7 linked regions of the Homo sapiens genome follow. The protein of the gene in region 4 interacts with the protein of the main gene of each other region in a biochemical or structural test. Each region holds a gene or a part of one and is shown on either strand. Other genes may lie near its edges.

Evidence for each region.
Region 1: the proteins of TJP1 (region 4) and RGS12 interact in a test that uses a peptide from one of them, tested with the Homo sapiens proteins (one large-scale study listed by IntAct).
Region 2: the proteins of TJP1 (region 4) and RALBP1 interact in a test that uses a peptide from one of them, tested with the Homo sapiens proteins (one large-scale study listed by IntAct).
Region 3: the proteins of TJP1 (region 4) and FMNL3 interact in a test that uses a peptide from one of them, tested with the Homo sapiens proteins (one large-scale study listed by IntAct).
Region 5: the proteins of TJP1 (region 4) and FAT3 interact in a test that uses a peptide from one of them, tested with the Homo sapiens proteins (one large-scale study listed by IntAct).
Region 6: the proteins of TJP1 (region 4) and PALLD interact in a test that uses a peptide from one of them, tested with the Homo sapiens proteins (one large-scale study listed by IntAct).
Region 7: the proteins of TJP1 (region 4) and EVI5 interact in a test that uses a peptide from one of them, tested with the Homo sapiens proteins (one large-scale study listed by IntAct).

Annotation. Positions count from the first base shown.
Region 1 is NC_000004.12:3,296,021-3,299,520, forward strand, and holds part of RGS12 (regulator of G-protein signaling 12), read left to right. Parts: intron 1-3,500. UniProt on the Homo sapiens protein: Regulates G protein-coupled receptor signaling cascades. Inhibits signal transduction by increasing the GTPase activity of G protein alpha subunits, thereby driving them into their inactive GDP-bound form.
Region 2 is NC_000018.10:9,524,013-9,527,512, forward strand, and holds part of RALBP1 (ralA-binding protein 1), read left to right. Parts: intron 1-581; coding exon 582-743; intron 744-1,707; coding exon 1,708-1,839; intron 1,840-3,500. UniProt on the Homo sapiens protein: Multifunctional protein that functions as a downstream effector of RALA and RALB. As a GTPase-activating protein/GAP can inactivate CDC42 and RAC1 by stimulating their GTPase activity.
Region 3 is NC_000012.12:49,651,906-49,655,405, forward strand, and holds part of FMNL3 (formin-like protein 3), read right to left. Parts: intron 3,080-3,500; coding exon 3,005-3,079; intron 2,398-3,004; coding exon 2,287-2,397; intron 1,970-2,286; coding exon 1,820-1,969; intron 1,423-1,819; coding exon 1,321-1,422; intron 308-1,320; coding exon 28-307; intron 1-27. UniProt on the Homo sapiens protein: Plays a role in the regulation of cell morphology and cytoskeletal organization. Required in the control of cell shape and migration. Required for developmental angiogenesis.
Region 4 is NC_000015.10:29,717,969-29,721,468, reverse strand, and holds part of TJP1 (tight junction protein 1), read left to right. Parts: intron 1-760; coding exon 761-1,111; intron 1,112-1,452; coding exon 1,453-1,692; intron 1,693-2,330; coding exon 2,331-3,203; intron 3,204-3,350; coding exon 3,351-3,448; intron 3,449-3,500. UniProt on the Homo sapiens protein: TJP1, TJP2, and TJP3 are closely related scaffolding proteins that link tight junction (TJ) transmembrane proteins such as claudins, junctional adhesion molecules, and occludin to the actin cytoskeleton.
Region 5 is NC_000011.10:92,231,318-92,234,817, forward strand, and holds part of FAT3 (protocadherin Fat 3 isoform 1 precursor), read left to right. Parts: intron 1-3,500.
Region 6 is NC_000004.12:168,892,052-168,895,551, forward strand, and holds part of PALLD (palladin), read left to right. Parts: intron 1-2,434; exon of another isoform or gene 2,435-2,527; coding exon 2,528-2,626; coding exon of another isoform or gene 2,627-2,714; intron 2,715-3,500. UniProt on the Homo sapiens protein: Cytoskeletal protein required for organization of normal actin cytoskeleton. Roles in establishing cell morphology, motility, cell adhesion and cell-extracellular matrix interactions in a variety of cell types.
Region 7 is NC_000001.11:92,509,109-92,512,608, reverse strand, and holds part of EVI5 (ecotropic viral integration site 5 protein homolog), read left to right. Parts: 3' UTR 1-3,500. UniProt on the Homo sapiens protein: Functions as a regulator of cell cycle progression by stabilizing the FBXO5 protein and promoting cyclin-A accumulation during interphase. May play a role in cytokinesis.

The sequences.
Region 1 (3,500 bases), on a different chromosome or scaffold from region 4:
CAGTCAGCTTCTGGAGGCTGGAGGAGAGCCGTTCACCCCCCTGGTCAGCTTCTGGGGGCTGGAGGAAAACTGCCCCCCTGGTCAGCTTCTGGGGGCTGGCCTCATTCCTTGGCTCCCGGCTCCTGCCCTGCCTCCATTGTCACATCGCTGTCTTTCTCCTCCTCTTTATTTTCTCCTTTTAGAGACAGGGTCTCACTTTGTTGCCCAGGTGGAGTGCGGTGGCACAATCATAGCTCACTACAGCCTTGAACTCCTGGCTCAAGCCATCCTCCTGCCTCAGCCTCTTGAGTAGCTGGGACCCCAGGCATGTGCCACCATGCCCAGCTAATTTTTTCTGTTTTTTTTTTTTGGTAGAGATGGGGTCTCACTATGTTGCCCAGGCTGATCTTGAACTCTTAGCCTCAAGTGATCCTCCTGCCTTAGCTTCTCAAAGGGTTGGGATTGCAGGCACGAGCCACCGCGCCTAGCTTCTGTCTTCTTCTGCCATGTTCAAATTTCCAGGATAATCTCCTTGTCCTGGGAGCCTTAGTTTACTCACATCTGCAGATCCGTATTGCCGTATGGCTTTCACAGTCCCAGGGATTAGGGCCTGGATATCTTTGGGGATCGCTATTCAGCCTACAGCAGGCTCCTCACTTGTCTTCGAAATGACTTCACTTTTCCCATTGTGTGCGAGGAGCACCCGTCTCATGCCTCTTCTCTGGGATGGGCAGGGTTTGTCCAGGGAAGGTCCCTGTGGTTTCACTTCCCTGCCCTTGGGGAGAGGCGGGAGCCATCCTGGAAACAGGTGTCCTGGGAAGGAAGACAAGCCTTGCTCAGGATGCAAGCCCCAGTCATGAGAGGTTGTGGGAGGTCACTCATGCTGTGCCTTTTTAGGAGGTGGGGTCGTTACCAGTTCCAAACTGGATACTCCACACAGTGCTCATGCAGTTTTACCTGTGGTTTTGGGGGCCACCGTTGCAGAAGTTGCCTAGATTCTTCCATGAAGGAGCCTCTTGCCTCGGGCTCCGGGCAAGGAACTCTTGTGTTAGAAGTTCCCTTCTTCTGTGTCTTTTAAGGTCTGGACTTCAGTGAAAGAGAAAAGAAACATCTAGTTTGTTCTTTCTGTTTTTCTTTTCTTTCTGCTTTTCCATGCACTTGCTGTCCCCAACTCTGTAATCATGGTGATACCCGATACGCATACACACTCTACTCACATATCTTTTCCTACATCTTTGTGTCCCTTAGCAGTGATCTTAGTTGTCCTTCCAGCATGCCTGAAAAAGGGCTGAGTCTGTGGATTGAAGCGTCCAGTTGTAGGCATTCTCCTGCCCTGCCTGGCCGCAGCCCCCAGAGGCGGGATCCTAAGTGGTCTGTTTTCTCAGGCATTTACTGCTGTTGAAGCTGCTCCTTTAAAGCTTAAGACATTCTTTTTTTATTTCTCCCAAAGGCCGTGGGGAGGTTTAGCTCTCCTCTGTCCCACCAGCCTCCCTGTCCCTCTATGTGCCATCATAATCACTGCATTTTTGGTGAAATCGACAGTCCTTGCTCTTGTGTGACTGTAAGCATTGCTCATTACTGCGCCAAGGAGTGCCCTGAGCACAGGTCCTCTCGCACAGCCCTGTGGATTAGCATCTTCTAGTCACCCACCTATCAAAATGGTTTGTTTTTCATTGCATCCAGGACACTAGCCCCATCCCCACCCCTTTGGGATTGGAGCCTTCTCCCTGCTCTCGTTTGCCCTGGTCTCCAGGAGACCTGCTGCGCCGCTGTCACCTGCATTTCCCGCTGCTGTCCTCCATCTGTGGGGCTCCCTGTGCACTGGGTCCTGCTCTTCTCTCTCTGCTTGGCTCACTCCTCGTTTTGCTGAAGTCCTACTCTTTTGATACCTAAGAAACATCACATAGGTATTTTTTTTGGTCCTTGATTTAGAAAACATCTTTATTTTACTCTCCAATTACCTTTTAACTTAGCTGGGTATAAAATTTTAGACAATGATTTTTTCGGAATTTTGAAAATGTTGCTTCATTGCATTTGGTTTCTGTGCTGTTGAGGTCTGACGCCATTCTGATTTCAGTTCTTCTGTGTGTGATCTCTCCTGCCTCAAGCTCATAGAAGCGGCTCTTTTCCCTCAGTGTTCTGAGAAGCCCGATAATGGCATCTGCTTCCGTTTATTGTGCTGGGCACTCCGTGGGCCCTTTCAGTCTGAGGATAGAAGTTTTTAAATTTCAAAGATAATTTTCTTTCAGTTTTGCTGTTTTCTCTTTCTGGAACTTTTATTTGGAGGTTGGACCTCCTAGGTTGATCCTCTAATTCTCTTTTTTCTCATCTTGTTGATCTCTTTGATGTTTGTTCAATTTTTTTTTTAAGAGACGGAGTCTCACTCTTTTGCCCAGGCTGGAGTGCAGTGGTGCAGTCATAGCTCGCTGCAGCCCCAAACTCCTGGGCTCAAGCGATCCCCCTGCCTCAACCTCCTGAGTAGCTGGGAACACAAGCATGCACCCCCACAACTGGCAATTTTTACTTTTCATTTTATTTTTTCATAGTCTCGTCATGTTGCCCCTTTGCTGTTTCTAAGAAGTCAGTCACTCTGGTAGCTGCGTTGCTCCTTTATGTTATATGATGAGGTGCTTTCAAGCTCCTCCTGGGATTTTTGGCTTCCAGCAGTTTGATTGTGATGTTCTTAGGAGGGTTTGCTTTGTATTTGTCCTGCTCAGGGTTTGTTGAACTTCTTGGATATGTAATTTTTCACCATCTTCAAACTGCTATTAAGTTTCGTGCATTTTAAAATTTCAGTTACAGTAGTTTTTATTTCTAGAATTTTCACTTATTTTTTATGGTTGCCATTTCTCTGCTCTGTCATTTGTTTATTGTGATCATACTGTCATTAAATCTTTGAACACATACTAGCGGCTTTAATGTTCTTTTCTGCTAATTTCAACACCTGCATTACCTCAGGATCAATTTCTATTGGCTTCTTCCAACTATGGGCCACATCTTCCTGTTTCTTTGAACATCTAGTGTTATTTGATGGTGTACTGGACATTGTAGATGGTAACTGTAGTGACTTCTTTTTTCTGAAGAGTGTTGATTTTTGTTCTGGAAGTTAATTTGTCTGGACTCAAATGAAAATCTCTGCTGCAGTCTCTGCTTGGTGCTGTTGACCTTCCGGCTGCCTCCTTCTGCTGGACTCTGGGGTCTCTCTGTGCATGGATGGCTCACCACTGGCCAGGACCTAGGCAGAATTTACTAACAGATCTCACGACTGCCTCTTCCCCAGTGACCTCCTTTCTGAGATATGCCCCTCACTGTTCAGCCACCCAGCCCTCCCCAAGCCCTATCTTGGACTCTTCAAGCTGGGAGGATCACAACTTCTACCTGTGCTCTAGCCATTTTTAGAAACACTTGTTTTAGTTGGTGCAGCTCTCTCCTTTCAGGGGACAACTCCCCTCCACTTTCTGCCTGCTTTTCATAGCTCTCCAGGACCTCCCAGAGTTGGTTTTTGTGTCTTGTGTCTGGTT
Region 2 (3,500 bases), on a different chromosome or scaffold from region 4:
TGGGTAGATCATTTGAGGTCAGCAGTTCGAGCCCAGCCTGGCCAACATGGTGAAACTCCGTCTCTACTGAAAATACAAAAAAATCAGCCAGGTATGGTGGCACACGCCTGTAATCCCAGCTTACCGGGGAGGCTGAGGCAGGAAAATCGCTTGAACCCGTGAGGTGGAGGTTGCAGTGAGCTGAGATTGTGCCACTGCACTCTAGCCTGGGCTACAGAGCGAGGCTCCATCTCAAAAAAGCACCACCACCGCCACCAACAACAAAAAACACACAAAAAATAAGATGTTTAAATCAGTTAATACTGTGATAGAAAAAATAAACAAATGGATGGCATCAACTTCTCTATCCTTTTCTTGACTTTTTTTCCCTTCAGATCTTTCTGGTGCTTGAATACATGATTTAACTCATATTTTACCATTTTCTTCTTAAATTGGCTATTAACTAGCAAAGACTGTGTTGTCATTACTGGGTAGAATTTTCTTTATGTGTCCAGGATTAAAGGATATATTATGTAATAGACACAAATAAGTGAAATAGAATGATAGTTTTAATGGTTTTCTTGTAAATCTTTTTTTCTTAGATCAGCAATCGAGTCCTGTATGTGTTTTTCACACATGTGCAAGAACTCTTTGGAAATGTGGTACTAAAGCAAGTGATGAAACCTCTGCGATGGTCTAACATGGCCACGATGCCCACGCTGCCAGAGACCCAGGCGGGCATCAAGGAGGAGATCAGGAGACAGGTGTGTGCACCCTGCCTGCCACAGCCTGCCTCTGCATTGGCTGTTGTGGAGTCCAGTGGTGATGGGCTCTTGTTTCCTGAACACTTTCTGTGTGTCTGGAGCTATGTTAGGCACACTGAAGTCAGAAATTCCCATCTGGTACTGTTTCATGCCAAATAAGTCAGAATACCATGGTGGAAAGAGCATAGTTTTTGGAATCAAAACACCTGGCTTTAAATTCTTGCTCTGATCTAGTTAACTGATTTTAGGCAAATTCTTAACCACCTTAAGCACTGGTGTTCTTGCTTTAAAATGGATCCTCTTATAGGATTGATGTGAAGATTACCCCAAATGAGATAATATATGAAACATGCCAGGCACGTTGTAAATAGTCTAAAGATGTTTGCCTTTTCTTGACAAGGTTGCTGTCATCAGCCATATTTTATAGATAAGAATATTAAAATTCAGGGAAGTTAAGTAACTTACCCTGTGTGACATGATTACTAATTACAGACCCAAGATTTGAGCCCAAATCCTGGGATTTTTTACTGTGCTATTTTGATGGAAGTAACAATGCCGTGTGTGTGTGTGTGTGTGTGTGTGTGTAATTCAAGACTAAATAAGAAAGTTAATTACATTTGATTATTTATTTGCATGCAATTTATCAAACCCCTGCTTGCTTTTCTTCCCTTGTATCTGCCCTGAGCTCCCAATGCTTACTAGTTAATGATGATGACATTGGAGATGGGGATGTGGATTAAGTATTATTGAACCAATACAAATTAGTGAATAATTAATAGGCAAAACAATAAGAATGATTTTTCAATCATATCTTCAAAAAAATAATTAGTGCCATTATTTTACTCTAATGAAATAAAGGATAATTGAAAAATAGTTGATTCTTCATCTTTAGAAATTGCACGTGTTGTTAGTTTAAGATAAGAGGATATGAAATGCAACTAGGTGTGTGGCATTTGCTTTCTAGGAGTTTCTTTTGAATTGTTTACATCGAGATCTGCAGGGTGGGATAAAGGATTTGTCTAAAGAAGAAAGATTATGGGAAGTACAAAGAATTTTGACAGCCCTCAAAAGAAAACTGAGAGAAGCTAAAAGACAGGTGAGTTATTATTTTGATACCTAATGTTTATAATAGAATGTGTTTGAGTCTTTTATGTACTTTATGTACTCTTTTTTTTTCTTTCTTTCTTTTTTCTTTTGATGTTGACCAGGGTGGTCTCAAACTCTTGGCCTCAAGTAATCCTCCCACCTCGGCCTCCCCCAGAGTGCTGGGATTACAGACATGAGCCACCACCCCCAGCCCAAGTTCTTTCTGTTAAGAATATTATAATGTCACTTGAAGTGAACTTCTCTGGTGGGACATTTATTCACTAAAATGTTTCTAGTCCTATATTATTGATATTGCAGCCTGGTGTCAGTCACATGTTTCAGTGTAATCTAGAAAGTTTTTTTTTTTTTTTTTTTTTGAGACAGGATCTTGCTCTGTCACCCAGGCTGGAGTGCAGTGGCACGATAATGGCTCACTGTAGCCTCGACCTCCTGGGCTCAAGGGATCCTCCTACCTCAGCCTCCTGAGTAGCTGGGACTACAGGTGTGCGCCACCATGCTCGGCTCATTTTTTATTGTTTGTAGAAATAGGGTCTTGTTATGCTGCCCAGACTGGTCTCAAACTTCTGGGCTCAAGCAGTCCTCCCACCCCCCAAAGTGCTAGGATTATAGGCATAAGCCACCATGCCTGGCCTAGAAAGTTTTGTTTTAATTAAAAATGATTTTACTAAAAAATTTGTCATTTCCTGCTTGGTTATACCTGTAAACAGGGCTTTCTATGGATGAAAAACAGGCTGGATGGTGACACACCTTTGGGGACTGCTGGGGAATTTAAGGCATTTAGAATTAGTCAGCTCTTTGGAAATGTAGTGATGAGGGTCACCTGGAAGGCCTTGAAGATCAGGAGAGATTCTATTTATGTAATAATAATAAGAGTGGCCTGCAATACCTGATGAGTTTAGGGTATGCCAGTCAGACTTTTGAGTTCCCTCTTGTTTAGTGTGTGTTGCTTGGTTCTGGGACTGTGAGTGTACCAGCCACAGCAATGGTAAAATCCCAGATCTCTGGATCACCTTAAAATCCACATTGCAGATCAACTGCAGCATCTAAACAGCACATCCAAGGAACATTAGTTAGCCCTTGCCTGAATTGGGGAACATGATAGTAGGTCTCTGTTGTGGTTGTGTTAAAGAGACAAAGACAACCTGAATACTTCTGTTTCTTTGAGGTTAGAGATTTGTATTAATGTGGAGGATAGCTTTGTCACACGGGGCACATTCATGGGACTTTTACACGTGCGCTCCAGGATATGTAATGTAGCAGAAGCCCTCTGCGTATTTTTCTTCCTTCTTTTTCCTAGCTCACTAGGTTATCTATCTCTTGCTTCCTTTACGTGTTTTTTGTTTTTGGTGTTGGTGTTGCTGTTAAAATTTTCCCTTCATGTCTCAGCCTAGAATCAGGTATTAGAGATGGACCACTCAGGCTTCAGGGGCAAATTGTAATTGTTAATCATATGGCATTGCCAGTCAGCCTTTAAATGAAGAGTCCCCTGACTGACCTAGGACAGGGCTGATGGAGGTTTGGCTTTTGTTTCTCTTGCTTCTACATCTTGCCTAAATAAAGGAATCATGGTATAGCAGCCAGAACCAATATAAGAAGGGATGGATTAACTTTGCTTTACCGATTTTCCCGATGCTATGTTTTCACGCCAGC
Region 3 (3,500 bases), on a different chromosome or scaffold from region 4:
TTGGCTCCCAGGGGTCGTCGTGGTTACCTGGTAATGGGGGAGGTGGAGGGGGCAAGGGCGGAGCTGGTGGTGGAGGAAGAGGCAGGACCTCCTCAGGGGGTGGGGCTGGAGCCAGAAGGTCCAGGTCGGAGGGTGGCATGCCCTCACTCAGCTCTGCAGGGCCTACTCTGGCCAGGGCCTCACTGTCCACAGACTCCAGGCCCCGGACATTTGGCTCCAAATGACATCGACGCTGAAAGGCCTCCTCCTTCTCTTTAATGAGCCTCCGCAGGGTGTGCACCTGGTGGCTTGTGTTCTCATATGTCTCCTGGCAGGCAGACAGCACCATTAAGGGAAAAGTGGGCTGAAGGCATAGTCATTGCCCCAAGAGTGAGAATTCCTACCCAGGGTTCTCTTAACGAGGGTCTCTGTCAGGGTACTCAGAGGCTCAGAGTGGCAGAAACCCAGGTGGGGGAATGAGGAAGCTGGAAGGCAGCAAAACAAAAGAGGCAAGCAGAAGCTGCCTCCCTCCGCTGGCACCCTGAAGTGTCCTCTCTGCTCCAGCCAATTCTCACTGCATGGGCCCCTCAAAGCCCAGGAAAAAAGGTTGCCCCTGTGAAACTCTCCTTAATCTACCACCGGTCTGACATAGCGGCTCTCTCCATAACCCTTTGGGCCTCATTTTGCTTTAATTTCACTTGGCCTTGTATAATGGCTCAATTGGAAGCCCCCTATAAACAAGACCCTGTCTTAACCATCTCTGTATCCTCCATAGCTCCCAATACAATGCTCAGCAGAAGCTGGGCAGATACATATTGAGCTCAACAGAGCCAGCATATATTCTTCTGAAAGAGAAAGTAGGATGGGGGCATGACTTTATAATGAACAAAAAGTCAGGAGAAAATACAGAAGAGAATGAAATATGAAGAGTACCTGCCCTGCCAATTTAGGATACCTGGTGGACATCCTAATACACAGAGCACTTGGTCACTCTGCCCCTGCTCATTAAACATGGCTGGGGGAGGAACACGGGGGTAGAGGGGAGAAAAATCAATGGGATGGGCTGGTAGGAGGAGGCCTGGGTTGGAACTCCAGAATGCTTGTGGGTGCCCCAGCTGTTCCCACCCTCTTATGTGTGTGTCTGGCTCACACTGGCCCCACCTTTCCTCTCCAACTAAAAAAATGGGGTGAAATCATCAGCCCACCCACACCTGAGTACCTCAAGGGTGAATCAAGATCTAAATCCTAGAGAACTTGATATGACTCAGGGAAAAAAAGCAGAACCCCAAGGCGCTGGAGCCCAGGATCAGTCAGGGACTGCCTTCCCCAGAGTACTTGTACCTTGATGCTCTCTAGTTCCTTCTCCCGCTGTAGCAGCTGCTTCTCTAGTTCTGCCACCCGCATCATGTTTTCATTCTCTAGGTCCAGAAGCTTCTCTGTGAGCTGCACAACAGGAAGGGCAGGTTCTGTGCTGGCCCTAAAGCCTGGGCACTCAGCACAGCCTGAACCCTAGTCAAGACCTGAGTCGGACCCCTCAACACAAGGCCACAAAGGCAGCTTAGTCAGGTGGTTCCCTTATATTCCAATAACAGATACAAGACAAAGGCCACATTCTGACTGTCTCAAGACCAATGCCACCTCATGCCCAGCCCTGGAGGTCGATGTGTATTCCAACTGGTGGATGATCCAGTGGCTCAGGCCTGAGTATGCTCTTGAGAGCCCTGGTGGGTTCTAAAGCCTCCCTGGGACTCAATCTGGAGGCAAATGGGTCAGCTCAGGATTCCTGGTTACTTGAGCTTCCATCAACAGTGGCTCTGGCAGGCAAAGGAAGACCACCTACATGGGACACATGCTCCTCCAACTCCTCCACCTTCTCCAGGGCTACATTCTTGGTCTCAGCATCCTCCAACAAACCCCCGACATCAAACACGTTGTCCAGATATGCCTGAATCTGCACCTGCAGCTTCTCGCTCTCTGTGTGCCTTGACTTCTGGGGGAAGAGCAGAGAGTAGGAGTAGTTGTAGGAGCAGGCAGATCATCAGGGGAACTTTCTGAGAAAGTCTTAGTCCTCATCCCCCTTCGCCACCACTTCCCAAAGAGTTCCTGCTGCAGGCCATGTCAGATTCTCGCCCCCATGGAGCTGCCTGACTGGGGAGTTAGCTGCAGAGGTCCTGAGTCCCAGGCTACAGAAGACAGGCAGGGTCCCAGGAGCATCAAGGATTAGGCACTTATAAAAGAAAAATCATTTGTGATACGGCTAAACTGATCCCAAAGCACCTCACCTTACAAGGACCCCAGCCAGCTCACCTGCAGGAACTCCTCTAGCCCCAGCTTGGTAAACTCATACTGCAGGTGGACCCGGAAGTTCATGTCCTCCACCGAGTGCACCACGATGTTGATGAACTGCATGCAGGCCACCTGAAGAAGAGGAGGCCCAGAGAAGCAGCAACAGGAAGGGCAGAGGAAAGGCAAGAGACCAGGAGGATAGGCGGCTGTTAGAATATCATCATCATGTGGATAATTACAGGGAGTCAATTAAAGAGTTAAGTCTTTATGGGGGCAATAAGAGTATTTTAATTTTAAAAATGTCATTTAATATTCAGTGTATAAAGACAAGTAAATTACATGAAAAACAGATGTAAGTGAAGATATAGCTATCTGATTTCCTTTGTACATCAACAGGTATTCCTCGAGACAACCTTACCTAGCCAAAGACCCTGCAGTGAGGGGAAGAGAAGCTAGAGGAAGAGCTTAGGAAAGGGAGGGCAGCTCAAAAAGGATCCAATTCAAGGACAAAAAGGCCACAGAAAAGAGGAAAAGGAGGTAGATCTGATATACACAAATGATATCCTGAAGTTTCTAAGAGCTCTCTGGGGTAGGCAGGTGGACAAGAAGCATTTGCTGAATAGAATCATTCTGGGCTCTACGTGGAATATCAAGATACGCTGTTGGCCTCACCCCTGTTGTCAAGGAACACACACACAGCCCTGGTGGGTATGTGCTGGACCCAGGCCCAGTTCCTCACCATGAAGTCAATATTGCTGTCCTCATTCCGGAAATACTCCATCAGCTTCTCAAAGCGGTGCAGCTCCTTGCATACCTGAATGAGCAAACTTTCTCAGTGAAAGGATCTGCTCCATGCAGAACCCAAGCCCCTGCGCTCTGGCTCCTAGGAACATCATGGCAAAGGACTGGTTCAGACCAAGCTTAACCACAGCTCTATATATGAAATAGGCCATTCTGGACACTATAAAAGAAAACCTGGGGCCAGGCGCGGTGGCTCACACCTATAATCCCAGCACTTTGGGAGGCCGAGATGGGCACATCACCTGAGGTTAGGAGTTCAAGAACAGCCTGGGCAACATGGTGAAACCCCATCTCTACTCAAAATACAAAAATTAGCCGGGCATGGTGGCACATGCCTGTAGTCCCAGCTACTTGGGAGGCAGAGGCAGAAGAATCGCTTGAACCTGGGAGGTGGAAGTTGCAGTGAGCTGAGATTGTGCCACTGCACTCCAGCC
Region 4 (3,500 bases):
TGCTTCTGGGGAGGCCTCAGGCAACTTACAATCGTGGCGGAAGGGGAAGGAAGCATGTCTTATATGGCTGGAGCAGGAGGAAGAGAGTTGGGGAGGTGCTGCACACTTAAAAAAACAGATCTTGGGAGAATTCTATCACAAGACTGTGTGAGGGAGATGGTGCTAAACCATTAGAAACCACCCCCATGATCCAGTCACCTCCCACCAGGCCCCTCCCCCAACACTGGGGATTACAATTCAACATGAGATTTGGGTGGGAACACAAATCCAAACCATATCAGTTGTTTCCTAAACATAAATATATTAGCTCTTATTCAACTTTTGAACTGTTGGGTTTATTTCATAGGTATTCTTCCATGTGCTATTCTGTCAGTGTGTCCTTGTTTCTGTGAGCTTAGTTTGGTAACATTCTCCCTCTTCCCCTTGCTTAAAAGGGCTGAAGAGCTAGTGAGTAGGTTTTATAAATCTGAGCAGTGTCAGAGTTTCTTCGTTGTCTTCCAGGGCTGGGCCCTGGAGTCTAACTTTGTCCTGGCTTACCGGCCACTGTTTCCTTCATCCATGCCCTTCAGATCTCAAGGGGTGCTCCATGTGTCTGCGTGTGTGCTTGTACAATCTTCTTGACTTTTCCTTACCAGAAGTTTCAAGAAGTAGATGTGACTTCTCCAGAGAAAGATATCCTTTTCAATCTGCCTTGTACGATAAAGGCCATCTCTTAAAGAACTACTGAATAAAATTTGTAATTTACTTTTATTTGACCCAGGCGGATGGTGCTACAAGTGATGACCTTGATTTGCATGATGATCGTCTGTCCTACCTGTCAGCTCCAGGTAGTGAATACTCAATGTATAGCACGGACAGTAGACACACTTCTGACTATGAAGACACAGACACAGAAGGCGGGGCCTACACTGATCAAGAACTAGATGAAACTCTTAATGATGAGGTTGGGACTCCACCGGAGTCTGCCATTACACGGTCCTCTGAGCCTGTAAGAGAGGACTCCTCTGGAATGCATCATGAAAACCAAACATATCCTCCTTACTCACCACAAGCGCAGCCACAACCAATTCATAGAATAGACTCCCCTGGATTTAAGCCAGCCTCTCAACAGGTAAGCAGCAAGCATTCAACGTTTTGTAGATAGAGGTGCATTATTAAATTTTAGAATGTGGTGATTGAGTTAAAAATATATATGTTGTCCTTTCTCCAGATTAAGAATTAATCTTCAATTTCAATTTGAGAGTACCAAGGGCTTAATTCTAAATTTTGTGTGTTTGTCTTAACACAGCAATGTACTGGATTTTTTTTTTTTCCCAAAAAGTTTAGGACATGAGGTCATAATTTTGTTATTCAGCACACTTAAAATGTATGTCTACCAATCACTATAAATTGAAGTGGAAAGTTAGCAGTAAACAGAAACACTATATTTAAAATATTTTAAACACTTCACAGAAAGCAGAAGCTTCATCTCCAGTCCCTTACCTTTCGCCTGAAACAAACCCAGCATCATCAACCTCTGCTGTTAATCATAATGTAAATTTAACTAATGTCAGACTGGAGGAGCCCACCCCAGCTCCTTCCACCTCTTACTCACCACAAGCTGATTCTTTAAGAACACCAAGTACTGAGGCAGCTCACATAATGCTAAGAGATCAAGAACCATCATTGTCGTCGCATGTAGATCCAACAAAGGTACCTGTGCTGCGGTGTTGCACTAATTTGTTGCTGTCCATCAATCTGGCACATGATCATTTTTGCTTTGCCCTTTAAGTGTTCCTTTTGCTTTTTTACTGCAGGCTTATACACTGTAATGCTTTCAAATCAATACAAATCATTTCAGTTTCGTAGTTTGCATGGCTTCCATTGGTATACTGATTATTTGAAAACAGGCCTTTTAATTGAGATTTGTGCTTATTATTTTTATTTTTGGCTTTCAGTATCTTCCAGAATTCCTTAATATGTAATCGAAACCCATCATAAACATATTTATGTTAATACAAATTATGATGCCCATAAATCTTCTTTAGGATTTTTCAGTGTCAAAATGAAGTGTAATCAATAGTGCATTAATTTTCTACTAAATTTAATATTTATCTTTAACTCACTGTTTATTTAGTACATGCTGAAACATAAAAGCCCCTACCTGCATTATAAATTTTGAGCTTTCACTTAAACCAGCTTTTTCCACTAATCTTGTCTATCCTGATAATAAATGGTAAAACATACCATTTTCACATATTAAATCGTAGTTTAATATTTAATCACAGTCTAATAAAATAGACTAGAATTAGAAACAAGACTTTGTCCTTAAATGTGAATTTTTTATACAGGTGTATAGAAAGGATCCATATCCCGAGGAAATGATGAGGCAGAACCATGTTTTGAAACAGCCAGCCGTTAGTCACCCAGGGCACAGGCCAGACAAAGAGCCTAATCTGACCTATGAACCCCAACTCCCATACGTAGAGAAACAAGCCAGCAGAGACCTCGAGCAGCCCACATACAGATACGAGTCCTCAAGCTATACGGACCAGTTTTCTCGAAACTATGAACATCGTCTGCGATACGAAGATCGCGTCCCCATGTATGAAGAACAGTGGTCATATTATGATGACAAACAGCCCTACCCATCTCGGCCACCTTTTGATAATCAGCACTCTCAAGACCTTGACTCCAGACAGCATCCCGAAGAGTCCTCAGAACGAGGGTACTTTCCACGTTTTGAAGAGCCAGCCCCTCTGTCTTACGACAGCAGACCACGTTACGAACAGGCACCTAGAGCATCCGCCCTGCGGCACGAAGAGCAGCCAGCTCCTGGGTATGACACACATGGTAGACTCAGACCGGAAGCCCAGCCCCACCCTTCAGCAGGGCCCAAGCCTGCAGAGTCCAAGCAGTATTTTGAGCAATATTCACGCAGTTACGAGCAAGTACCACCCCAAGGATTTACCTCTAGAGCAGGTCATTTTGAGCCTCTCCATGGTGCTGCAGCTGTCCCTCCGCTGATACCTTCATCTCAGCATAAGCCAGAAGCTCTGCCTTCAAACACCAAACCACTGCCTCCACCCCCAACTCAAACCGAAGAAGAGGAAGATCCAGCAATGAAGCCACAGTCTGTACTCACCAGAGTTAAGATGTTTGAAAACAAAAGATCTGCATCCTTAGAGACCAAGAAGGATGTAAATGACACTGGCAGTTTTAAGGTAAATATGTCTTTAGTGCCTTGGATGCATGGGCACACCGTTTAAAAGGCTTCTTGGCTCTCCCCTCCGCCATTACATGATATCTATTCTGTTAATTATCTGTTCCTTAGGCATATTTGTCTTTTTTTTTTTTTTTTTTTTAAACAGCCTCCAGAAGTAGCATCTAAACCTTCAGGTGCTCCCATCATTGGTCCCAAACCCACTTCTCAGAATCAATTCAGTGAACATGACAAAACTCTGTACAGGTGAGTACACTTTGTGCTCTTTGTGGCATAGAACTGACCAGGAATTTAACCC
Region 5 (3,500 bases), on a different chromosome or scaffold from region 4:
AAAAAATTTGTAAAAAATGGCTTACAAAGTAACATTAGCTTCCAGAATGTGAGTGAAAAGGCAGACTTTTACCTTGGACGTTCTCTATGACTTGATCCTACTTGTACTTTTCAGAGCAGTTGCAAATAATATTTCAGTTAATTCTTTCTTTCTTTTCTTTTTTGAGATGTTGGAGATAAGCCCAGCTGTTGAATGAGGCACAGTTATGAAAGGTTAAGTGGAAGTTTAATTGTAACTTCAGGACTTCAACTAAATTAAATTCCAAACAATCTGAAAAAAATTGTAGCCTTTTCAGTACCATGGAAGGTCAAAAAGTGAGCACTCTGGAGCAGCTATTGATGTTTTATATTTTGAGATAAGCCCCAAATTATTAATGCTACTAAATATCATTGAACATTATTTGATAATTGTAAACATCTAAGAGTATGCCAGATGACACAGATTAAATTTAGTGACAAATGTGCTTAATGACAGTATAAATATCAGGGTTTTTTTTTTTTGTCAGATAAATTCTATGTAAGTCTGTGTGTGTTTTCTTTCAAAGCAAAATGAGGCTATATCTTGGTAGCAGGATCAGCTTGGTCTTTTTTGAAACCTAGAGCATTTATCACACATGACATTTTGTTGATTTTTTAAGTCTATGTGATCAATATTTTGGACCTCTGAAATCTATTTTTGATTGTGGTTTGAAATTCTCTGTTGGTTCTAAGTGGTGGCTTAATGATAGCAGTTGCTGTTGTGATTGGGTGAGCAGTGTGTTATGTGATTCATGTGGTACCGTCCCATGCTAGGGTGGATTTTGCAGCTAGGGTTTTCTCAGATTGGCCTGGCTATGGAGAACTTCACTGCAAAGAAATGTACACATGAAAGTGGGCCAAATGCAGATGACTTTAACATCGCCCATGTTATGGATAGAATGGGGTGTGAATCTTTCCCACACTTTCCACTTAAAAAAAAAACCTTTGCTAATAACAGTTTCAATCAAATGAATAAGAATTCAGAAGTGTGTGGTAATCTCTCTTGAGAATTTGGTACCTATCTGATAGGACTGTAAAGGCATTTCAGAATGTCAATTAAATGGAAAAATATGCCTGGAATTGAATATAATTAAGAAATGTTGAAGTCTGGTGTCTACATATTCAGACACTGTATAAGATGGTTTAATTAGTGAACAAGGATTTGGATTTATTGACAGAAGGTCTCTTTCTCATGGCATGTTTCACTCATTAAAAGCTCATAATGTCTTGGATCTTTTTAGCTGTTGGAACTTGACCATTTGTCATTTTGTGCTTCTTGACTTCAGTGATGTCGTTTTTTTTTTTTTTTTTTTTTTTTTTGTTTAACTGTGCAACTGATTAGGATGATGTTGCTTCTCTCATTGATGATTATTTCCATGGAGTGGACGCATGGTGTCTTGTAAACATTATGAAGCATCACCAAAGCACTAGGCAAAACTCAGTACCTCTGAAAAACAACAATTGGGAGGTAGAATTATTATTGTGGAATTTTTGGCCTAGCAACTTAGAAGTAATTAGAGTAACTTCCTCTTTATAACTACTAGCTTTATATTATATTTACCTGATGGCAGAATTTACATTTAAATTCACATTTCTCTACATCTCTCTCAGTTTTTCAGTTAATGGTTTATTAGTTTAAATCCTTTTTATTCCTGACTGTTGGGCTGAAACAGTTTCTAATCATACAGAAGACTGAAATTCTTTTTTAATATTCTTGTTGTTGGATATATTTCTTTTTGAACTGCATTTGATGATTATAAGTGCCTGAAAGAACTGCAGTTAGTAAAGAGAGAACTTGGGAATGTTGACAAGTGAGGTAGGGAGAAACATGGTTCAGTTAGTCCTTGAGGATTTTTCATTACCTGTTTATAACTTAGATTTTGGCTGTCTCCTATACTGGTACTAATGTGAACAGCTACTTTATAAGATTTTTTAATTCCTCATCTTCATAGGTATGTTCTCTAAGTCAGAGCTATTTAAAGTAATCTAGCGTTCCATCTTTCCTGTAGACATAGCAGATCATTCACAGTCTGGTTGAACTAAGTACACATTACATCGTTGGTCGTTTTGGTGGCATGTGCTGGGTTCTTCAGGCCCGTGTCATTGTTGGCAAAGTATACTAAGAGTGCTACTATTATCTTGGACTAATTTTTTCATGGAGCATATTAAATAAATGTGGTGTCTGACCCTTCAAAAGTTAGCTTCCTCACCTGAGTGATGTTCAGCTAAATAGGTATAAGTCGTAATGTATGTGTGATCCTAAGTCAGTAAGATGGTGAACTGAAGTGACATCATCTGCTTGGAAGTCCCTGGATTAACAATGGGACTTATATTTATATTCAGAAGACAACTGCTACAATGAGGAAATTGGGCAATCTAGGCAATTGAACAATTGAATGGGAAATGTAAGACAAAACATATTATATTGCCAGATCAATTCCCTAGATCTTGTTGAATTATACGATAATTAGATAATCTTCTTTTATTTGGAAGTGTACATTTTGTAAGTGTAATAACTTGCAATAATCACTTTATTCCTAAGTTGTATTCAGCAGTGCACATGTTGTGTTCAGTTTACATTCTGCATATTTTTGTTAAATAGGTAGTATTAATAACATATTTTACCTCATATCCAAAGAGAAAGAGGGAGATGCAGGTATTTTGAGATTTATCACTTTCATACAGCTCATCAGTGGTTACTATAATAATCCAAGTGAATAAACCTAGATTGTTCTTTATACAATAGATATGTTTTTAAACATTGAGTGTAAATGACATTTTTCAAAACAAATCACATCTTAAATGCTTTCAACTAGGGAAAATACACTCTTTATTTAAACAGATGTGGCAAATTATTTTTATAAAGTAAATAACAATTTGTCTCTCTTACATTTATCTGTTTTTTAAGTTTAGATTTTGTATATTAAATTTCTCAAAGAGATGCAAGAGTGTATACATATTGGAAATACGTTTTTGTTCAAATATATAATAAAATGAAAGAGTTTGACCTTCTCCCTCAGTACTGCTTTGACGAGAAGTGGCATCAGAGGGGAAAATAAAGGGAGAAGATGGAACTAGAATGAGAAAAAACAGAAATGTCCACCTAGTTTATGGAGATGTTGAGGAAATGTTAAAGTTTAAGAATTTCTGGGCCAGGAGTGGTGGCTCACGCCTGTAATCCCAGCACTTTGGGAGGCTGAGGCAGGCAGATCACCTGAGGTCAGCAGTTCGAGACCTGCCTGGCCAACATATAGTGAAACTCCGTCTCTACTAAAAAATACAAAAATTGCCAGGCACGGTGGCTCATGCCTGTAATCCCAGCATTTTGGGAGGCCGAGACCAGTGGATCACAAGGTCAGGAGTTCAAGATCAGCCTGACCAACATGGTGAAACCGTATCTCTACTAAAAATATAAAAATTAGCCAGGTGTGGTGGTGGGTGCCTGTAATCCCAGCTACTCAGGAGACTGAGACAGGAGAATCT
Region 6 (3,500 bases), on a different chromosome or scaffold from region 4:
TATATAGATAAGATGTTTTCTCCACTGGATTTAAGTCTTTCCTCATCAGTTTTTGTTTGTTTTTTCATCTCTTTTGTTGATGCTATCCTTTTAAAATACTCTTTTCTTTTTAAAATACTATTTCCAGAATATTTTAAGGGGATGGGAAAAGCAAATCTAGAAAATAAGACTTACCAGGTAAAGGAGAGGAACCTTCTGTAGCTTTATTAAGGAATTGTCACTGGAAAAATTTGCCTGGCTCTTAAGTACAAGACAAGGATCTTTTTGTATAAAATCTCCCTTTCAGACACCTTTTTCAGAGTAGAAAGCTCTCTATAATTATGTTTTCTGAGAATTTTAATTATCAAACATTGATAAGTAAAACTGTGAGAACAGACCACACTTGAAAGCTGGAGAGCAGAGGAGGGGTGCTGAATGCTGATTTTAGTTTATTAGGGTATCTTAATCTGATTAAGAAAGATTAAAATTTCAATGAAGTTTTGTGTTAGTTACTCATTTCACTGAGTATAGAAGATTTTCACAAGAGGAAAATATTTTCTCCCTGAAATAAGTGATTGCATGTGTAAATGTACATACTCTGGAAGTTTTCCCTGGCTCTGTCAACTAAATCTTTTAAAAGATTAAAATAAATACATATGGGAACTTTTTCAAGCCAGGTAAGGCATCACTCCAGCTTTTTTTTTTTTCTTTTTGGCTGTCTATGTCAATGTTCCTTATGAACTAAGATTCTCTTGGTTAAGGTAAGACTTCCTTAAGCTATTGGTCAACCCACATTATATATATTGTATGTATATTTATATTCATCTGTTTAGCAGTGAATAACATTCACAGTAAGTTCCACAGGTATCCACACTTGAGAGCTTAAAATGACAAGTAAGGTTTCCCTTTTTAGAAAATGGGATTCTCAACCAACTTTTTCCTAATATTATATATCATTCTCTTTCTTATCTTTGGTGTCTGTAGACACGGGCTTTTATAGCCAGATGGCATAGTGACTTAGAAAAAAAACTGTGAAGTATATTTGGCTTCTAGTGGTAGCAGGTGCATTCTGGTGAAGGAATAGATATGAAATTGATATTTCTGCTTATAAGGAACAGAGTGAAAATCACTCCAGGCCTGCCTTTGATGTGTTACAATTCTCCGTGAAAAGATTAGGGAAGCTTTTTAAGAGATCAGGTATTTAAGACTCTCTTTGAAAATTGAATTCACTGATTTTTTAATAGGTGTGAGAAAATTAATTTAATAACATAGTGGACTCAGATGCTTCATGCCGCCCTCAGACTCCTACCTCTGCCTCTTCTTGTCCTCTGACCTTTCTTTATTAAGTGAAATAATTTGAACTGCAGGACTATTTGTCATTTGGCACTTGACTTGTTTCACTTCCCGGTTTCAGCTGGGATTGAGATCAGCAATTACTGGAAATTGTAAATTTACCCAACATATTTTCCTGATTAGAGAGCTTCCAATCAAATTTGCATTTATATTTAGAAGTTTGGAAGTTTATCTGAAATAATTTCTGTACATTTTTTAGATTCTGCCTTACCAATTATTCTCTATTTCTAATCAAACACTTGCTTATAAAATGCTCCCGATGAGGCAGGTGGTATCTGAAAGTTCCTTCCAAACCTGTAAGTCTAAGGCACTTTAGAATGAGTATTCAAGAGCAGGTATCACCCCAACAGTCACACAAAAATGCCGGCATTTCTTATGTATAAGAATGGCATAGGTAAAACGGTTTGGGCCAATTCCAAAGTGCTAGCTGCGAGATGCAAGAACACTACCACTTTCTTTGCCTGATGGGCAAGCAGTCTGCTTCTGGGTCAAGTCAATTGAGGCTGTTAGCTTTGGCAAGTGTCTTGTGTAATCCTGTTGCTAATTCAGCCATGTGCATCATTCTCTGTGGATTATAATAGTTGCCGCCAATCCCCTACATTACACAGCAGCCTGGGAAATGCTCTTAGAGGTAAGAACCCCATCACTGCCAGCTCATCCACATCTTCCTTTAGCTAAACATTTACTGAGCACATACTGTTAAATGACTGATAGAATTATTTCCATTAGCGATACCTGTTCTTTTTTTAGTCAGTTTATTCTCCTTTTGAGTATCTTTGTTTTTTCTTTCAGTCAGTATTAGAGCTGACTTGGGTGTTCTGAAGCTGATGGATGGCTATAAAAATAACATTTCTTTTAAATTGTATTTTGCTGTTTAAATATCTTTTTTTCCATGTTTTTCATTAAGGACATGACAAATCTTTTCTGTGTGGTTTCTTCCTTGTCGCTTATTGCTCACTTTAAATTTGTGCTGTACCAATTGGTGGCTCTCTGGATTAGGCCATTAGTACTAGAAAGGGAGGTAAAAAGGTAGAACAACTGAAGCAAGAAAAAGAAATATGCAGGTATCTGAAGCTGGAGAGAGAACACTTACAGAAAATCATGAAAGTGTGTTGTTTTTTACTCTTTTTCATAGGGCAGTACATATTTGTGATTTTTTTCTAATTTTGTATTTTTTGTGACTTACGTTGTTTAGAGGTTAACATACGAAGAAAGAATGGCTCGTCGACTGCTAGGTGCTGACAGTGCAACTGTCTTTAATATTCAGGAGCCAGAAGAGGAAACAGCTAATCAGGTACCATGTTGCTCTGGACTTCTTAGGGTAACATTTATTCTGTCCCCCTTTTCCATCTTCCTTATGGATACTGTTCTTGGGATGAGTTCTGTGGAAAGTAGAGGGCAAGTCACAGAAAAGCAGTATTAATATCATCAGTCAACCTCACAGCTAATTTTTATTGAGCACATACTATGTTAAGTGACTGACAGAATTCTTTCCATCAGTGATACCTGTTCTTTTTATTCTTCTTCTTGATTATTCTCCTTTCCAGTACATTTCCATTTTCCTATCCTAAGTTTTATGCAAAATAATTTTGTGTGGAGAAACACATTTTCGCCGACATTGTCTGAAATAACTAGTGAATATTTCCCATTAGAGTTGGACCTTGAACAACACGGGAGTTAGGGGGACCAACCCCAAGCACAGTTAAAAACCCACATATGGCCGGGCACAGTGGCTCATGCCTGTAATTGTAGCACTTTGGGAGGCTGAGGTGGGTGGATCACGAGGTCAGGAGATCGAGACCATCGTGGCCAACATGGTGAAACCCCGTCTCTACTAAAAATACAAAAATTAGCCAGGTGTGGTGACGCACACCTGTAGTCCCAGCTACTCGGGAAGCTGAGGCAGGAGAATTGCTTGAACCCGGGAGGTGGAGGTTGCAGTGAGCTGAGGTTGTACCACTGCACTCCAGCCTGGCAGCAGAGTGAGACTTCGTCTCCAAAACAAAACAAAACTAAAAACACATATACGACTTTTGACTCTTCAAAAACTTAACTAACAGCCTACTGTTGACCAGAAGCCTTACTGATAACAAAGAGTTGATTAACACGTATTCTGTATGTTATATGTATTATAGACTGTAGTCTTAAAGTAAGCTAGAGAAAAGAAA
Region 7 (3,500 bases), on a different chromosome or scaffold from region 4:
TTTATAAATCTGTACCACCTAACATTGAACATCATTTTATATGAAGAACATACATGTTGCAAAATGACTGCTTTCAGCATCTAACAGGACTTCTGTAAATAATAGGTTAAAAGTTAAAAATAAAACACTAATGTTTTAAGAGCTTTAGTATTTTGCTTAGCATTCAATACTAGCAGATTCATAACTGATGCCTGTTCAAAAACACTGTTGGTGGAATCTTTTATTTCATGTGTATGTAACTACTAAATTTTTCATGACTGAAGAGGTTATAGCACATATTAGTTAGTGCTAATATTCTACTGAATATAATTTAAGCAATGGGCTAAGGTCCAAGAAACATAGCAATTATATCTACAAATAATCTATTAACATGATCTTCAGAATCTCTAGTTTTTGTTCTATAGATAAAGCCATAAGAATCCTTTCCTACCAGTTTTTCCTATATCATTTAGATATTATTTCCTAGAAAACAGGATGCCTGTCACTGATAAGTTAGAGAAAACACCCAAATTATACTTGCACTATGGAAAGACGACATGAATATGTTGACTGGGTACTTTCTACTCTCATTTTTGTTAGCCTATGAAAAAAAAAACATTTTGTTAACCTATGGAAAAAGCCTTGGAAGAGAAAAGTAGAATTCAGTATGTATGGAGGCACAGTTTTGCACAGTATGTTGCATGCGGCAAAAAAAAAAATATGAAATAGAGTAGAAGAGATAAAAGTAGTTTTCTGTCAAAAACTAGGAGTTAAGCCTTCAGGTACGTTGTGGACTAGGCTTTCCAGCAAGGTTTTTGTAGCTATTTGCTTGCCTGAGAAATGAAATTGAAAACATACCCCTGCGTGTCTGTCCTTAACACCAGGCTAAATTCTGGTGGTTAAATAACTTATCTGTGGTTACAAGCTAGTAAGTAGCAGAGCCAAGATTTTTTTTAATATAGAGACAGGTGTCTCACTGTGTTGTCCAGGCTGGTCTTGAACTCCTGGCCTCAAGTGGTCCTCCTGCCTCAGCCTCCCAAAGTGTGGGGATTACAGGTGCGAGCTACTGCTCCCAGCAAGAGCCAAGATTTTAACCTAGATCTCCCTAACACCAAAGCTTTTGAAAGGGTTCAGCTGAAGAATTTCTCAATTCTCTGTTTTGTTTTGTTTTTATTTTTGTTTTTTGAGATGAAGTCTCACTGCACTCAGGCTGGAGTGCAGTGGTACGATCTTGGCTCACTGCAACCTCCACCTCCCGGGTTCAAGCGATTCTCCTGCCTCAGCTCCCAAGTAGCTGGGACTACAGGTGCACGCCACCACAACTGGCTAATTTTTGTATTTTTAGTAGAGATGGGGTTTCGCTATGTTGGCCAGGCTGATCTCAAACTTCTGACCTCAGGTGATCCACCCACTTTGACCTCCCAAAGTGCTGGGATTACTAGACGTAAGCCACCACACCTGGCAATTCCCTGCTTTTTTGACAACATAATTTAAATGAATTTGATTTAAATGTTTCCTGAATATATATACAGATAGATAGATGAGTATCAACACTTACAAGCTCTACACAGTCTGTGAGTGTAGATACTACTTACTCGTAGGATTGTCTTGTGCTTTGGGGATTTTTGTTCGGAGTTCTATACTATCAGCCCAGAAAGCTATCAATGTCCAAGTGAAGTGAGATGATGCATGGCCACATTATTGCTTTGACCCTCACATCAAGAAATCTGAATGATCTGGACCAGGGGTCAGCAAAGTGCAGCCTACAAGCTATTGCAGTCAGCTGCCAGTTTTTACTTTTTTAAATAGTTGGGAAAAAAATTCCAAAGACTGATATTTTGTGTCACATGAAAATTATATGAAATTCAAATTGCAGTGTCCATAAGTAAAGTTTTATTGGGGCACACCCATGCTCACCCTTTTAAATATTGTGTATGGCCGCTTTGTGCTACAGTAGCAGAGTTGAGTCATTGCAAGGGAGACCATATGGCCCAGGTAGCCTAAAATATTTATCTGATCCTTTACAGAAAAAGTTTGCTAACCCTTGATAACAGATACTCTAAAATGCAGGTTTTTCTTCTTCAATTTAGCTCAGTGGTAGGTCAAATTGTTTGCTTTTGCTATTAAGCTTATGATTTGGAAACGTAAAATTTCATGGTGGATATTATAATCAGAACTATTCAAAAGGGAAAACATGCCAGCCATTTTATATGATGAAGTCTCTTATTCCATAGAAAACTGTAGAAAGATATCTGTATCTTTGGAGAAGGAGAAAGAAAGGAAAGAACTCCAGAATCCCATCACTGTTCTTTAAAGCATGCATCACAGACCTTTAAGAGTATGCTTTATTGAGTAAAGGTTATAGTTTGACTTTAAGATAAGAAATTTTCTAGAATCATGTTTGAATTCTAAACGTTGATATTCTTAAGTACCATTTCTGATTAGGAATTAGGTGTTAAAAGAATCATGGTAAGGAAACCTTAATCCGTTGAAACTCTTGTAATTTGGACAACAAAAAACTAGAAATAACACTCTTTTCTTTGAAGATCTGATTCAAATACACCTTAGAAGAGTTTAAAATCTCCCAGGCCTTTAGGATGCAATAGGATATTATGCCTTGGTTTGACTCCTTTTCATTCAAATTAATGTAAGTATGTTGTTCAAGACTTTGAAGCATTGAACAATGTTCTCGATGAATTTTATTTAATTACTGACATTTTGTGATATTTGAATGTTATTAAGTTAAACACTTAGAGTTGAGTATATTCAGGGGAGAAAAGTGAATGAAATGACTCATAATAAGAAAGCTTGCTCCCTTGGGACAGTTACCTTCCTGGTGTCATTGCCATCCTGGGTTGACAAGCTGAGAGTAGAGGATACAAGTGATGTGAATAAAATGGAAATTGCATTGAGTTAATGAAACAGACACTTTTAGATCAAGAAAACACTTCAACAGCCTTTTTAGAAATTGGCACACTCCTATAGTCCCACCTACTCAAGAGGCTGAGGCAGGAGGATCACTAGAGTACAGGAGTTTGGGGCTGTAGTGTGTAATGATCACACCTGTGAAAGAATAACCACTGCACTCCAACCTGGGCAACATGGCAAGACCCTGTCTCTTTAAAAAAAAAAAAAATCCTGGGAAAAGAAGTCAAAGATGTAATTTTACACAATTTCTGCCCCCACCGTCTTTTTTGTTTGTTTGTTTGTTTGTTTGTTTTTTGGCTAGATACTAGGTATTCAGTGTTTGCTGAGATGACAGGTTTCTACTAATCAGCCAGTTATTTGGGAAGGAGAAAAACTTTTTCTCAATTCTGAACATGATGCAGCTTGTTAACTCTCCAGATAGTGCCTTTGATTGAAAATAAGGTCTACACCTTTTTAAGTATATTATTTCTGACATCGTAAGAAATAATTTAGTTCCTTATTCTCATTTATCTTTTATATAATGTACTGTAATATTCAGGTTTAAAGTAAAATAAGTATATGAATTATATTTTGGTAAAACTGTTTCATGACCA